Linked DNA regions of Homo sapiens. The protein of the gene in region 1 purifies or fractionates together with the protein of each later gene. This does not show direct contact. Each region holds a gene or a part of one and is shown on either strand. Other genes may lie near its edges.

Region 1 (7,297 bases):
ACTGTGAGCTAAGCACAGAGCAGGCACTCCAAGGTCATTTGCTGAATGGCACCTGGATGGGCCAGAGAAAATGGGATGAGGTGGAAATGGGGAGGGCATGAAACAAAGATGAATGGGGTGAGAGAAAGCAGGCAGCTGTCTAAGACAGTTTCCATTCTCTCTGTCAGCACATATACAAAGTCATGGTTAACAATTTTCTGCTCCACAGTGATGTTTTACCTTCACAATTTCCTGTGCCAAAATCCCTCCAACCACCGCACACACTGGGGCCATCTCGGAGAAGCAGTACCTAAAAGAGAGGAAGACAAGGAAAATGGAGCACTGGGAACAGAACTGTGACCATGACATCTGGAGAAATTCAGTAGTAGGCTCTCCTGAATAAAAACAACTTCTAGCAGGAGGGCCCGATTCAGATAGCAGTGTTAATGCTGGCATCTAGGCGTGAAAATGAAATCTGAGCAAGGGATTCATAAGTGGTTGGAAAAGACCTTTGAACTTTGGCAAGCAGAAATTCTTTCACAATACTTTTATTTTTACCTTTATAAGTTAAAGGAAAGACTATATCTGTGCTTCCTATATCTGTCCTAGAGATATCAGATGTTTCAGTGCCCTGGTCACATTCTCGCAATTCTCTTCTTACCCATAATGGCCAGTGGGTTCTATATGCTATTCCCAGACAAATGTCAGGGAGCAGGCCTGTGTTAACATGTAGGAAGCAAGGGAAATTTGAGGCGTGAAATTAAAGTATGAGGGCAGAAAAAGTCTTCACAACCCACATAGAAACCAGCCCTTCTGGGCCAGGATGGGGCATCTAGAGGACAAATTTTAGATGACACAGTCACCTGCCCCTCCAAGTTACCCATCCTAGTAAGCAAATCACTTAATTCCACCACTTCCCCAAAGGAAGTGTGCTCTGCCAGCTCCTACTCCTGAACACAATGCTGTGTGCTCACCAAGCAAACTGGAACACAGACAAGTGAAAGGGAAAGCCTCCCTACAGAACTACCTCCAATCTCCCCAGTGTGGTGCACATCCTTCTAGACTTTTTTTGAGACGGAGTCTCGCTCTGTCACCCAGGCTGGAGTGCAGTGGCGCGATCTTGGCTTACTGCAAGCTCCGCCTCCCGGATTCATGTCATTTTCCTGCCTCAGCCTCCTGAGTAGCTGAGACTACAGGCACCCGCCACCACGCCCGGCTACTCTGAATTTTTAGTAGAGACGGGGTTTCACCATGTTGGCCAGGATGGTCTCAATCTCTTGACCTCGTGATCCGCCCGCCTCGGCCTCCCAAAGCGCTGGGATTACAGGTGTGAGCCACTGCGCCCAGCCCCTTCTAGACATTTTTAAAAGTGCACAATCTAAACGGGTATAATTAGGGCGGGCTCAGTGGCTGATGCCTGTAATCCCAGCACTTTGGGAGGTCGAGGTGGGCGGATCACAAAGTCAAGAGATCGAGATCATCCTGGCCCACATGGTGAAACCCCGTTTCTACTAAAAATACAAAAATTAGCTTGGTGTGGTGGGGTGAGCCTGTAGTCCCAGCTACTCAGGAGGTTGAGGCAGGAGAATCGCTTGAACCTGGGAGGCATAGGTTGCAGTGAGCTGAGATCGCACAACTACACTCCAGCCTGGTGACAGGGCAAGACTGTCTCAAAAAATAAATAAATAAATAAATAGGTATAATTTTAAACCCAAATATTATCAACTATTACTCTTCTGTTCTATAACCTATTGAGGGACATTTAAGCTGTTCAACACTGTAATCATACATCTTGACAAAGACACAGGCGTCGAAATAATTCCTTAAGACAAATTTCTAAATATAGCAATGCTAGTTTTTCATATGTATTGCCAAAATGCCCTCCCAAAAGGCTGTATCCATTCCAATCCCAAGAGCTGTGTCCAAAGGCACCTCCGGCTCCTTACGCCCTGGCCAGGACCAGCACATTCCCATTTTGTTCATCCAGGGGTAACATCTTCCTGCTTATCAAGGTCCACTACAGAGCTCTAAAATACATGGAGAACTAGGGCTGGGTGCGGTGGCTCACATCTGTAATCCCAGCACTTTGGGAGGCCAAGGCGGGTGGATCATTTGAGGTCAGGAGTTCAAGACCAGCTTGACCTACATAGTGAAACCCCGTCTCTACTAAAATACAAAAGTTAGCCGGGTGTGGTGGCGGGCAGCTGTAATGCCAGATACTCGGGAGGCTGAGGTGGAAGAATTGCATGAACCCAGGAGGTGGAGGTTGCAGTGAGCCGAGATGGTGCCACTGCACTCCAGCCTGGGTGAGAGAGAGACTCCCAATAATAATAATTAAAAAAACTCCTCCCATTGCTGGTAGAATCTCATTTTGGCCGTATTGGAGGAATAGTTCAGTCTGGCCAATATGGTGAAACCCCGTCTCTACTAAAAATACAGAAATTAGCTGGGCGTGGTGGCACGTGCCTATAGTCCCAGCTACTCCAGAGGCTGAGGCAAAAGAATCACTTAAAGCTGGGAGGCAGAGGTTGCAATAAGCCGAGATCACGCCACTGCACTCCAGCCTGGGTGACACAGCAAGACTCTGATTCAAAAAAAAAAAAAAAAAAAAAAAAAAAAAGGAACCAGATAACAGGCCAGGTGCAGTGGCTCATGCCTGTAATCCCAGCACTTTCGGAGGCCAAGCTGGGTGGATCATGAGGTCAGGAGTTTGAGATCAGTCTGGCCAATATGGTGAAACCCCATCTCTACTAAAAATACAAAAATTAGCCGGGCGTGGTGGCACGCGCCTGTAGTCCCAGCTACTCAGGAGGTTGAGACAGAAGAATCACTTGAACCACAGAGCACAGAGGCGGAGGTTGCAGTGAGCCAAGATCGGGCCATTGCACTCTAGCTTGGGTGACAGAGTAAGACTCCATCTCAAAAAAAAATAAAAAAAATAAAAAAATAAAAAAAAATAGCTGGGCATGGTGGCGTATGCCCGTAATCCCAGCTACTCAGGAGGCTGAGGCAGGAGATTCACTTGAACCCGGGAGGTGGAGGTTGCAGTGAGCCGAGATCATGCCACTGCACTCTAGCCTAGGTGACAAAGTGAAACTTTGTCTCAAAAACAAACAAACAAACAAAAGAACCAGATAATAAAATATTTTCAGCTTTATGGGCCATATGGTCTTTGTTATAACTATTTAACCCTGCTGTGGCACAAAAGCTGCCACAGATAATATATAAATGAGTAAGTGTGCCAATAAAACTTTATTTACAAAAAGAGGTGGCAAGCCAGTTTGCCAAGGGCTATTCCAAATTAAAAGAGATACAAGTGGCTGACGCCTGTCTATCCCAGAAGTTTTGGAAAGCCAAGGCAGAAGGATGGCTTGAATCCAGGAGTCTGAGAACAGCCTGGGCAGCAGAGTGAGACCCCCGTCTCTACAACAAAAATAAATAAGTATTAATTATCATTTAACTCAGGCAGATGTGCTTTGTATACTCTCTTGTTATGCGGTTCATAACTTTAAAAAATAGGAAACAGCCTGGTGAACATAGTGAGACCCTGTCAATACAAAAAAAAAAAAAAAAAAAAAAAATTAGGCAGGCTTGGTAGTACACGCCTATAGTCCCAGCTACGCAAGAGGCCGAGATGAGAGTGTTGCCTGAGCCCAGGAGGTTGATGCTGCAGTGAGCTATGATGTGCCACTGCACTCTAGCCTAGGCAACAGAGAGAGACCCTATCTTAAAAAAAAAAAAAAAAAGAGGCTGGGCGTGGTGGCTCACACTTGTAATCCCAACACTTTGGGAGGCCGAGGCAGGTGGATCATGAGGTCAGGAGATCAAGACCATCCTGGCTAACACAGCGAAACCACATCTCTACTAAAAAATACAAAAAAAATTAGCTGGGCGTGGTGGCGGGCGCCTGTTATCCCAGCTACTGGGGAGGCTGAGGCAGGAGAATGGCGTGAACCCGGGAGGCGGAACTTGCAGTGAGCCAAGATCATGCCATCGCACTCCAGCCTGGGGGACAGAGCGAGACTCTGTCTCCAAAAAAAAAAAAAGCCATCATCTAAACATAGGCAGCAGTTTACAAGGTGCCTTTGTAACATCAGCACCGTGAGGTCAGCGGCTGATGACACTGTACAGGCTTGGATCTCATGGTAACTCACTGGGGCACTCATCTCTTGGTGGAGGAATGACCAGTTTGTGAGAAGCAAGTGTTTCCTCTGCTGTGCTTCGCAGCAGGAAGAAGGACTGGGTCATGCAGGGCTTCAGTTCCAATAATCCCAGCCAGTCAGCCAGTGGCAAGCGGCAGCCACTGAGCATACCTGGGGCTGTGTGCTGGGCCGTGAGTGTGCAGCCAAGTGACTACTTGGGCATTCAAAGTGATGAACGGTCTGGCTCTGCATCACCGGCCAGCAGAGTTGAAGGCCCTGCTTCCTAGAAGAGGAAAGCCACAGCCTAACGAGCTGCTGGCTGGTTTTCTCTCCAAAGTGGTTCCTTCCCTGCCCACCCTCTTTGGGGAAACCGCTTTTCCATGTCTCAGTCTCGTGTGCTCAGGCACTGCCACTCTATTGCTGCCTTTTTTTTTTTTTTTTTTTTTTTGAGAAGGAGTCTCCCTCTCGCTCTGTCGCCCAGGCTGGAGTGCAGTGGCGTGATCTCAGCTCACTGCAACCTCTGCCTCCCGGGTTCACGCCATTCTCCTGCCTCAGCCTCCCGAGTAGCTGGGACTTAGGCACCCACCACCACACCTGGCTAATTTTTTGTATTTTTAGTAGAGATGGGGTTTCACCATGTTAGCCACGATGGTCTCAATCTCCTGACCTCATGATCTGCCTGTCTCGGCCTCCCAAAGTGCTGGGATTACAGGCGTGAGCCACCGCGCCCAGCCTTACGCTATATGTATTGAGACACGGTCTCTCTCTGTCACCCAGGCTGGAATGCAGTGGTGCAATCTTGGTTCACTGCAACCTCTGCTTTCCTGGGCTCAAGCGATGCTCTAGCCTCAGCCTCCAGAGTAGCTGAGACTACAAGCACCAGTCATCGATGCCCAGTTAATTTTTCTATTTTTTGTAGAGACAGGGTTTCACCATGTTGTCAAGGTTGGCCTCAAACTCCTAAGCTCAAAGCAATCTGCCTGCCTCAACCTCCCAAAGTGCTGGGATTATAGGTGTGAGCCACTGTACCAGGACAATCATGGCTTTTTGGGTCAGGGCACCACAGGTGCTTCAAAGACCACTGCTGGCCCTAAATGGAGTGGGGTTTGCTGTTGCTCACCTGAAGTTCCCAGCAGGAAGTCAACAAAGAAAGGACTAGGGACTCTGGCAGACCTTACTGTTGATAAGAAACCAAGGTAGCATGCTGCTACTAGAGCAAGCACTGTAATGATACCTGGGGTGGGATCTGGGTTGGCTACTTACTACCTGATGCCTAGTACATAACAGCTGCTCAGTAAACTGCAGCCATCATTATCACTGCTACAAGCTGGAGGCACTGCAAAGCCGAGTTTAGGAAGCCTCTCAAGACATGGAAAGGGAATTAGGGTGTGTACATGATCCCAGAGCTGCTTGGAAGGAGATGTGGATGGAGCGCGTGGTGGCTCATGCCTGTAATCTCAGCACTTTGGGAGGCCAAGGTAGGCGGATCACCTGAGGTCAAGAGTTCAAGACCTGCCTGGCCAACATGGAAAACCCCATCTCTACTAAAAATACAAAAAAAATTAGCTGGGCGTGGTGGCAGGCACCTGTAATCCCAGCTACTCAAAAGGCTGAGTTAGGAGAATCGCTTGGACCCAGGCGGCAGAAGTTGCGGTGAGTTGAGATTGTGCCATTGCACTCCAGCCTGGGCAACAAGAGCAAAACTCTGTCTCAAAAAAAAAAAAGAGAGAGAGAGATTGTGACCTAGTCACTATGTGGTCTTCTCCAATCAAATCCTAAGCCTGTTTATGAGAGCAAAAAGGTAGTCACGTAAGGTGAAAGCATGGAGTGTCCAAGTGAGAGGATGCTGGGAACATGGGTGGTTTTGCTGCTGGGGGTATGAATTGATAGGATACCAATGGAGGCAAGGTGGCAATGCTGACCAAATGATAAATTACAACCTTCTGACCCAGCAACTCCCTTCCTCCTAATTATCCTGCAGTTGTACCTGCACACGTACGACACAAGGTCACACACTGCAGTGTTACGCAGTTAGAAAAGCCTGAACACAACTTGAGTGAGCAGGCAACTGGTTCAATAAACTCCATCGCTTCACACTCTAGAATACTAAGGAGCTGTGGAAAAGAGGGAGCAAACTATGTACTGATCTGGAGATGTCCCCAAGAGATAACAAGATCACATAAAGTGAAAAAAGGTAGAGAATAATGTTTACAGATCTTACATTGCCTTGAATTTTGAACCACGTGAATATAAGATACTTATTGTAAAAATCAGAATCTGTCCCCTCTTTATTTTTTATATATTGCTATTCTAGTGGAGAGGCAGAAGTCTACAGGAGCGAGCAGAATGTGGCAGGGTGCTCTCTGAAGGGTTTCTAATAAAAGAGCTTGTCAAATTAAGGCAAATCCTGAAAACAAACTTTATCTGTCCAGACTAAACAGTGATAAATACTGACACCAACCTGACAAAGTCCTCAGGAAGCAGGTCAGGACTAATACCCAGTGAGTCAAGCACATCATTTCGTATCTGGAGCAACAACTCAGAATCTTCCTCATATGTATCAGAACTGGGATCTCTTCCTTTATCTGTACGGAACTTTAAGAGCACTGGGAATAAGAAAAAGAAGGCAGGTTATAAAGCCACTTTTTTTTTTTTTTGGAGATGGAGGCTCACACTGTCGCCCAGGCTGGAGTGCAATGGCACAATCTTGGCTCACTGCAACCTCTGCCTCCCGGGTTCAAGTGATTCTTCTGCCTCAGCCTCCTGAGTAGCTAGGACTACAGGCACGAACCACCATGCCTGGCTAATTTTTGTATATTTAGTAGAGACGGGTTTTCACCATGTTGGTCAGGCTTGTCTCAAACTCCTGACCTCGTGATCCGCCCGCCTCGGCCTCCCAAAGTGCTGGGATTACAGGTGTGAGCCACGGCACCTGGCCACCTTTTTTTATTTATTCAACAAACATAGTCAGAGAGGCAATCCAATAATTATAAAAGCAATTTACCTTACTGTGAAAAGTGCTGTGACAGCATAATAGGGCGTCTGACACCCTCTGTAGGGTGGTATCAGGAAGGCTTCCCCGAGGAAACAATTCAATGAAGTATATATGAGTTTGAAGGGGGCAGAAAGCAGTGGAAGCTTTCAGTAGAGGAAAAAGGCTCTATTAAGACCTGGAA
Region 2 (3,243 bases), on another chromosome or scaffold:
GTCAGCTGATGGCCCCGTGACCAAGCATCACTTCATCTTGTGGAGTCTCAGTTTTGTCTGTCCATAAATGGAACCAATACCTGCTTTTTCTCCCTTTCAATGTTGTGAGAATCCACTGGAATGTTTTATGTGGAAATATTTTTGCAAAACATTTAAGATTTTAAATATTTACTATTCAGTATTTAATAAATATTGAAAACATCTTTGCAACAAGTATCCATTTGTACCTACTTGAGGAAACCTACACACCGCTGAGGCAGTGGCAGCTCTGGGAGTGTTCACCAGGGAGAAGCTGCTGAGAGCAGCTGAGCAGGGAGGGCCTCGTGGAGTCTCTGGGGCTTGACTGGGGGTCAGGGGGCTGGCTGTGGACAGGTGGACCGAGAGGCAGAGGGAGCCCTGCCTGGGGGCTCTCCCTCCAGCCCATAGTGTCGGTGGCAGGGTGAGGGTGGCCGACAGCCCTGATGGGACTCCTTTCCATCTGGGAGCATGACTACTTCCAGCCTTGCTGAGTCTGTGTAGGAACTGGCAGAAGCTTCCTCTTGCTTAGAGGATGGAAGAAGATCAGGGTGGGTGTTTTGCGCCCACTGTGTCAGGAGGAGAGAAGTGAGCGGGGGTGTTTCACTACCTTGCCTGGGCTTTAAATGGGGAGGGGCGGGGAGAAGCTGGCAATGGACCCTCACTTGACGGGCCCTTCTGTGAGCTGGGGGCTTTGGCTTTCATGGCATGGTCCCCCGCACTTGGTATAAAGCGCAAGGCTCCTGTGGGTCCTAGGACTCAGTGCTGCTAATCAGATGTTCTTAATTAGAATCTGATTTTGTGTAATTTTCAGTAAGAATTTTAGACATTTCAGTTTATCTTCTAGACTCAGTTTTTCTCTCAGTTAACATTTTAGCTTTGAATCTGCTTTTGTGAGTTTTGTTAGGGGAAGCTTGTTGAACCGTAAGGGCTGTAGTGAGCATACAGCAATGCCTCTTCCATGCGTGCTGAGCTGCAGTGAGGGGACGGACAAGAGCCAAGGTGTGACCAGGTGATGTCGCTAGTGTCAGGGAACACTCATGCCAGTGAGGATCTTCCCACTCTCTGATGAAAACTAACAGGCTCCCCTCTCTCTCGCTGTGCCTGTTGTGACAACCATGACAGCTGGAGATGGAGGACGAGGACACCATCGACGTGTTCCAGCAGCAGACGGGAGGTGTGCCGGAGAGCAGCCTGGCAGGGCACAGTTTCTAGAGGGCCCGTCCCCAGCCCGGGCCGTCCATCCTCGCATTGCTGTTGAATGGTGAGCACGTGACCATGCCGACCACAAAGGTGTCTGCGGAAACTCGAGGACATTCACCACGATGATTTTCCTCTCTTTGATGTACTTCAAGTGCAACTCAAAACTATATCTGCAGGGATGAATCTGTAACTTAAATTGGGCCAATCAGAATTGTTATCTTTGTTCAGGTAAAATGAGTTGCAAGATATTGTGGGTACTTTTGTGTGCTCATTTGTGTTTTCCCCCCCTCCTACAACATTTTTTTAACCCCAAAATTATAGCCTGAATGTTCGCTTTTAGTCTGGCCAGGGATCTGACTCCTGAGTTGGTTGCCTCTCCCCTGCTCACTCCAGTCACATAGAGAATTGGTGTTTCCCGCAGTGGGGATGCAGCTGTTGGACAGGTATTGGGGGCAAGGTTGGTAGGGAGGACAGACTGTCACTTGCTGTTACAGGCACAGGTGATTAAAATGCTAAATATTGCAAATTTAAGCTTTGTCAGTATATGGAAAAGTTGAAGGGAAAATACTGGAATGCTTCTTCAAAGGTTAAAAAATAACCGAGTCTTTTGGTAATTTGACCCCACGTGCTCTCTGGCCCTCAAGCATGTAACCTCGGGGTCTGAGGCCCAGGACCCACCCCCCTGCCACCCCTCCCACCCCACTCCCTGCTCAGTACCTGGCGTTGGTACACAGGCAAGGATTGGCACAACCAAAATTGGCCTTTTTCTCCCTCTTAATATTGAAGAAATTCCCACATTTCTCATTTGGTAATGGTGTTGTGGCCTCAGATTTCTTCTAGTATTTGCTTCTGATGAATGATTATGGTCTATACATAAAAAAGTAAGACTAAGTATTGCTGAATTTGCAGTTATGTTGTCGTGTATAAGAGCTACTTCCAAGTGTGGTTACAAATGAACCCATGGAATGATGACTTCATGTTCTTCTCGTGGGTTTGTGCCGTGCTGCTTTCCAAATAGGTATTGAATTTATGCATTAGTCTGGTGATTTCAGTTCTGTGAAATATTTTGGGATCTATACCAATTAAACATTTTCATAGTTCTGCCTATTGTCCTTCCCTGAGGCTCCATTGCTGCTTGGTGGCCATTCTCTGCCTTTTTACAGTCACCTGAACAATGACCCATCATCTCTTGCTTGCTTGAAATCTTGCTGAAATGTTCTCATTTCCTGTTTGCTGTATGGGCTCGGGTGGGATGTTTGTTGGCTCTGTTGTGTTTATTCACCAATTTGTACATTATTTGTTGTCCTTTACTACTGTAAACAGTAAATATAGTTTGGTATTCTGTCTCTTGGCTTCTACTAAACACTGCATTTGAAGGTTGGGGCATACTGGTACAATTCAGTGTTTGAATTGACCATTCCAGGCAGCCACTGCACTGAGAAACTTTGATTGAAAAGCTAGCCGCTGGAAGGTTAGTATTCGCCTGGCAGCTCATTTCCCCTCCCCTGGCACATCACCAATGCTAGTCCAGCCTTCTTCCTGCTGAGGGATGCATCCTCTCCTCAGAGACCTCCTGGCTGACAGCTGTCTGAGCTGGCATCACTGTGACATGTTACCCTCCCTCTCCTGGGTTTCGTATGTAAAGAAAGGGTGGATTTTAGAGGCAGGTGAGCTTGGGTGTTAGTCTAGGACATCTCTCGTTTTCTGGTGTTTGAATGTAAGTCAGCTTTCCTTCTGCCATGGACAACTTACCTATCTGCTTTGAAACTGAACTGACATTGATTTGGCTTTAAGAATTTCCCAGTGTGCAGTGGTGTAACAAAACCCAGGTTGAAAATGAGCTGTTTTAGCCCATCAGTTGAATGAACCCAAGGTGAAGAAAGATGGGCAGCTGTGGAGATGGAACACGTGATTCACTTGCACCAGGAAGAGTGCACGGATTAAGGCACAATACAGGATGGGGACATCTGCCAGATTCCCTAGGCAGCCTGGGGCGAAGCGGCTGCCAAAATCAATGAGGAAAGG

Evidence for each region.
Region 2: the proteins of SAE1 (region 1) and SUMO3 purify together in Homo sapiens (affinity purification with mass spectrometry; 3 studies listed by BioGRID and IntAct, with this or other methods). This does not show direct contact.

Annotation. Positions count from the first base shown.
Region 1 is NC_000019.10:47,196,663-47,203,959, reverse strand, and holds part of SAE1 (SUMO-activating enzyme subunit 1), read right to left. Parts: intron 6,728-7,297; coding exon 6,583-6,727; intron 290-6,582; coding exon 220-289; intron 1-219. UniProt on the Homo sapiens protein: The heterodimer acts as an E1 ligase for SUMO1, SUMO2, SUMO3, and probably SUMO4. It mediates ATP-dependent activation of SUMO proteins followed by formation of a thioester bond between a SUMO protein and a conserved active site cysteine residue on UBA2/SAE2.
Region 2 is NC_000021.9:44,804,938-44,808,180, reverse strand, and holds the end of SUMO3 (small ubiquitin-related modifier 3 isoform 1 precursor), read left to right. Parts: intron 1-1,140; coding exon 1,141-1,230; 3' UTR 1,231-2,564; downstream 2,565-3,243. UniProt on the Homo sapiens protein: Ubiquitin-like protein which can be covalently attached to target lysines either as a monomer or as a lysine-linked polymer. Does not seem to be involved in protein degradation and may function as an antagonist of ubiquitin in the degradation process.